2 separate regions of the Homo sapiens genome follow, and region 2 is linked to region 1. The links come from fine-mapping of genetic effects on gene expression. Tissue or cell type: subcutaneous fat. Region 1 holds a variant in brackets; the other region holds the start of a gene. All regions are shown on one strand. Distances are between the middles of the regions. Region 1 has its middle 21 kb from the start of LY75-CD302. Region 2 holds the start of PLA2R1 (phospholipase A2 receptor 1).

Region 1 (2,912 bases):
ACCTCCTCCTCTGCATGCATGTTGAATCTCCCTCTGACTGCCTCTTTTAAGGATACATGTGATTGCATGTGAGGCCCACCTGGGTAATGCAGGATGATTTCCTCATCTCAACATCCTTAACTGAATCCCATCTGCAAAGACTTTGCCACATAAGGTAACATTCGGATTCCAGGGATTAGGATCTGATATCTGTAGGGACTACTCTTCAGCCTAGGACATTGTCATTTGCTTCTGAATCGAAGTCTCTCTTATTCAGATCTCATTGGTGGAGCCTATGTCCCATGCCTGCTCCTGAGCTGCGAGGAGGCTGGGGAGTAGCTTCATGTCAGGAAAGGTGTTCAAAGATGAAAGCAGCCAAAATGGATGTCAAATATCAAGTACGATAGTCTTCAAAGATTCATAAAAATGAAATTCTATGTAATGGACCAGCCAGAATCTTTAAACTGAAAGAAGTTACCTATTGCTGAATGCTTTGGGCACCAAATGCCAAGCCATGCAAGTACTGCTAAGGAAAGACCATTTACCTAGAAAACAGTTTTCTTTTACTCTGGGGGCTGGGGGGGGGGCGGTGCGAACAAAAATAAAAAAATAAAAAATAAAAACACGAGAAGTGGATTTGGGGTCGTGTTCTTTTTTCGCTCCCAGGAAAAATCTGTTCCAGACCCCAGTATGGACAATTTGGTTAGATCCTATATTTTGTTAAGAATAACAGTTGGTTGTATGTCACGGTACGTTCCATTTCCAATCTGGTCTGAGGCATATTACTCCTGTGGTGCCCCATGTTGTCCAATACATTTATGGCAATAAGGACTTGGGCAATACGATGTGGATAACTTCTGTTTCCTCAACACTTTGATATGTGATTTTCAAACAAACCAAAATGATCCTTCTTATATCTGCCCCCTTTCCCCGATACACATGTATTTCTCCATGTCAGCAATGAATTTTCCAGCTCCTCTCACCTGTATACCTGTTAAAAACAATGGTGCTAACTCTTATTTTCCACGTCAGTTATAAAAAAAAACAAACAAACAATCAATTAGGATCTTGCATGTCTTAATTGTGTTACGGCAATGGTAAGCATCTTACAGGCTGCACAGTGTCTGCATTACTTCTCCATTGTAGGGGTGCGTATGTGTGTATTGACAAGGGGGAGAAAGCCATGTAAAAGATAACTGAAATTAGCATTTACAGCAACTATGTAGATGTCAATATAAATACATTTTGGGCTCTTATGTATAAATAATCTTCTGAGAACATTGTTTTTATTGTTGACACTTTCCTGCAGGTTTCTGAGACACACTTAAAATTCAATCTGTTCCCTTGAACATTTTTGTGAATTTGGCAGCATAATAAAAACTTTCTTTTAGAAGGCCTGGAATCAAAGCAAAAAAAAAAAAAAAGTTGTGGAAAAAAATGATTTTTTCTTTAATCTTGGAGGCTTCCTATTTCTTTGTTGAGAGGTTTTGTTCAGGAAGGGACTGTAGTAATATGATCTGATTGACAAGGATCCCAGCTCCCCAAACACTAGCTGAAAATTTGGGGCAAATTCCTGACCCTTTCTGGTGCTCCATTTCTCATTATAAGATGAGAATAATAACCAGGTCACCTTCTTATTTTTCAGCAACAGTTACTTTCCCCTTTCTTAGA[T/C]GGGATTGGCATTTTTAGAAAAGTATATTTTAGTGCTTGTCTCTCCCTTGGGTTCTAGAGTGGTTTTGTGTACATGAAACACTGACAAAATGCCCGTCTCTGTTTTGTCCCTGAACCCCTGATTTGATGTGACCTTTTTGGTGGGGGGAGGAAGGATGAAGGAGAGCTGGAGAGGTTCTGGAAGCTTTACTCTATGAATTAATACTTCTGCTTCAGCATAATGTTGGTATTTGATCAAACGTAAAAAGCTTCAAGCTTTTAATGTCCTGCTGACACCAGTATCAACAAAGCACTGAAGCGGAAGCTTTCTGGCAGCTGATTAGAGGGAGATTTTATTTCACTAGCTTTAAGACTAAGTATACCTTTTAGTAGATCTTTCTCAAGGATAAGCTACCTCATGTATTATAAATCAAATTCAAGAGATTTAATAAAGAACCCTTGATAATTTGGTAATATATTATCACTGTGTTTTGGAAAGGCGATAAATGACTGCTTTTTATAGTGTAATTTAAAATAATAATATGGATTACAGTTGTGTTCAGTCATGAAAGTATAATTTAGCAGTTTGGGCTTATAATAACCTTTTCTTTAGTGTCCACACTTATTTTAGATCAAGAATGGCTTACTTGGGAATGATTTACTATGCTTGCTCCCAGAGTCTAGTAGGGCTGAACATGTGTTTAATTGGAATTTTATGTTGTTGTGTTGGAAAAGCTTCCCACAAAAATGAAATGGAAAGTTGGGGGAAAAAAGATGGCTAAATAGTGAGCCATTCCAATATCAAAAGCATGTGGCATGTTTGCAAGCTTGCTGTATAAGTAGGGGCTCTCCAGGAAATGGGTGGCTCACTCGAAGTGGTCACTGGAGAGAGTTTAATAAAGGGACTACTGTATTTATAAAGGTGTGAGAAGGTTAAGGGAAGTAACAAGGGATGATGAACTACCCCTTCCCCCCACCCAGCTCCATGGAGCAGGGAGCCTTCACCACCCCAGGCCTGAAGAGACAGTGTGTTTGCTGTTCCTGGATCTGGAAAACACTGAAGCTATGGAGAGGAGCAGGTGACCAGCACTGCGTCCCCGGTGGAGGAATGTGGCCAGTGCTAGGTTCCAGCAAGGCAAGGAGGGAGCCAAGGGGTCCCAAATCTCCAAACTTGCTTACTTTCCATCTTCAAATCTCCTTTCCCAGCCCCACACTGGGCTGGACCCAACCAAAACTAGAGGGCAAGGACACCAAGGGACATCATCTGAGGCACAGAGCAGGGT
Region 2 (2,912 bases), 140 kb after region 1:
TTTCCACTGAGAGAGACTAAGGCATAAAGGCTTCAGATCACGCAGTTCATGGAGCCACTGGGGCTTCTCTCCCTCACCTGGCCTGATGTTTTCAGGCGGGGTGCGGTGGGTCAGGCCTGTAATCCCAGAACTTTGGGAGGACGAGGTGGGCGGATCACTTGGGCCCAGGAGTTGGAGACCAGCCTGGGCAACATGGTGAAACTCCGTCTCCACCAAAAATACAAAAATTTTGCTGGGCGTGCGGGCGCACACCTGTGGTCCCAGCTACTCGGGAGGCTGAGGTGGGAGGATCGCTTGACCCCGGGAGGCGGAGGCTGCAGTGAGCCGAGATCCCGCCATTACACTACAGCCTGGGCGACAGAGCAAGACCCTGTCTCAAAAAACAAACAAACAAAAAAAGTTTTCCTTAAGGAAGGGATGGACTGGGGAGGCCTGGCTTGGGGGTCACTCCTAGGTGGCGACGCAGACCCTGAGCGCTTGCTTTGCAAGGGGACGAACTGAGCCATCTTTTTGCTATCATTTATCCGTCCCAAATAAGCAGCTCTCAGAAAGTTTCCGTTTTGAAACTTCTCCGACACTCCTATCCCGGGCTGGCTCCGGGCGCCAGAGCCGAGAGGAGTTACCTGCGAGACCAAGCCCCCCCGCCCCCGCCGCCCGACCCCCGCAGGAGCCAGGAGGGTGCCGGGCCGCGCAAGTGGGGTGCTGGGCCTAGACAAGAGGCTGCAGGACACCACCCGCTCCCCCCATGCTCAGGACTGCTGACACACGAACCCCTACAAACGCGGCCGCCCTTGCCCGCCAGCTTGGCCCCTAGCTTCGCCCCTTCTTCCTCTCCTTCGACCACCCCGACCCCCCTCCCCAACGTACCGATCCAGTCCCCGACCCTGGGAGACTCACCCTGCCACTCCAGGAGCCGCTCGGGGGTAAGCGCCGCCGCCACACCCTCGGCGCAGCCCCGCGGCGCCCCCAGCAGCAGCAGCAGCAGCAGCGACGGCGACAGCAGCATCGCTAACCACTGGGCTCTCCGGGAGCCCCTTGTCCCGGGAGCCCCTTATCCCGGGAGCCCAGAGCCGCGTCCCAAGCACCCGGCCCCGCCGCGCGGAAGCGGATCCGTAGCCTCCTCCGCGCCCCACCCCCTCCGGGGGCCTTGCCAGCCCAGAGCCCTGGAGACCCACTCCGCCACCGCTGTCTCCACAGTGAACCGACACTCGGGGCTCTGGGCTGGGATGCGGGAAAGTCGCGGAGGTTTTCCTCGCCCCACCCACTGCGGCTTGGGGAAGGAGGAGGAGGAGGGGTGGGCCATCTGCCCATCCCAGAAATTCCTGCCTTTGGGGTGGGGACAGGCGGAGTGAGGCTGCTCGGGTCACACTCTCCGCTCCTCTAGCTTGCAGCCCTGCTCTCTCCTTTCTGGGGGAGGCCGAAGAGGAGTTGTGGGTGAGCGATTTGAGAATCTCCGGGACAAGGAGCCTGACATCCGGGTTTGCAAACCACCTGGATTCTGGTAAACACCGCGGATTTGCAGCGGGCAGCCTAGAGTGAACCCAGCTGCTCCGCGACGCAGGCGCTTTGGGAGGGTCCTGGACTCCTTTGACTTGTGGAGCACTGGAGACACCTGAGGGGCCACGCCGTGGTCTCCACCTTCCTTGCCCCAGAGTAACCCGGAGATTCTTCTATTCAGCTCCTTCGGTTTTGAAATAACCTCCTCTTTCCAACTCCTTTGATCCCCCAAGCCCCGCAAAGTAGCCGGGGTCCCTATTATCCCATTTTTACAGCTGAGAAACCCTGCCCAGAAAGTCGAAGTGCTTTGCTCTAGGTTACTTCCTAATCCAGCAAAAGTTACTCTCTAGCAAGTAGGACAGCCCTGGCTAGAATGTAGTCGTTCTAACTGTCCTCCTTCAAATAACCAGCAGAACACTGGAAGCGTTTAATATTCTGAGAACAGGCTCATATAAGACCTTTCCTCAGCGGGACCTTGACATTAGTCATTAAAACATAAGAGAGGGGGAGGGGAGGGGCAGAAAGCAGAGCCTGGAAGGAAATGCCTAGCAGGGAGCAAGATTGAAGGTCAGAGCCAAATGGGGAAGAAGGGAAAGTGGTTGCCTTGGCCATGGCCTTAACAAAAGGTGCTCAGTCCTGCAGGAACCTCAGAGAGCCTCAGAACTGTCTGTCGAGGACAAAAGGGGCAAGCGTTTATCCATGGACTTTATCCTTCCCTGTTGGTAAGGGAGATCCTAGGGTTATTAACTCCTCTGCACTGTTCTACAGCAGTGGTGAGTTTCAGTCATGGTCCCATACCTTGTCTCTTAGAAGCCCTGGGTGCATAGCATGGCAAAAGGTGAGGCGCTGTCAGGTTGTTTCTCAGAGGGTTGGGGGGTGGGGGACAGCCGGGGGAAACAGGCTGCAGAGGGGGCTGGAATAAGAGGTGGGTTGAGAGGATGTGAGAGGTTCCAATGTGTGTAGAGTTTATAACATATCATTACATGTAGAATTCAGCATCCTTGCTTGAAAACATGCAGAAAAGAGATGCTTTAAGCCTAGTAGATTACACAGACTTCAGCCACAAACTATGTATCCATCTCTCCTATGGCCTCAGAACTACATTGCTATGGGAATATCCCCGTAGTATTATGATAGAAGATTTGGCCCTGCCCGAGCAGGCTGGCATGTATTGCAGCAGGCAAGTGCAATGCACATGACATAATTAGGTCATAAAACAGGACACTGATGCTAATCTCTGGTGAGGTCCAGGGCAGTGAGAGTAAAGGGGAGAGAGACTAGGCTGGAGTGGGCATAGAGGCCTAACTATGCTCAGATAGTATGGTGGGTATTGGGAGGAAGAGGCTGTTCTAGGATGGGAAGAAATTGTGAAAAAAAAAATTATACAAAGGTTGGAGTGAGAACTGCTTGTATGG

The links. PIP is the estimated chance that this variant, and not a neighbour inherited with it, causes the effect. A credible set is the group of variants that fine-mapping cannot tell apart.
Region 2: it holds the start of PLA2R1, and the variant in region 1 is the best candidate, but not a certain one, in a credible set for the expression of PLA2R1 in subcutaneous fat (TwinsUK, PIP 0.81).

What each region holds. Positions count from the first base shown.
Region 1 is chr2:159,924,174-159,927,085 of GRCh38, forward strand. It overlaps a transcript of PLA2R1 not described here. Among named protein-coding and RNA genes, the nearest start is that of LY75-CD302, 21 kb to the left of the region's middle. The variant T/C (reference allele first, on the strand shown) is at 1,651.
Region 2 is chr2:160,061,398-160,064,309 of GRCh38, forward strand. PLA2R1 (phospholipase A2 receptor 1) reads right to left here and starts at 1,218. Exons shown (of 30, transcript NM_007366.5): 1 at 898-1,218. The coding sequence starts at 1,006.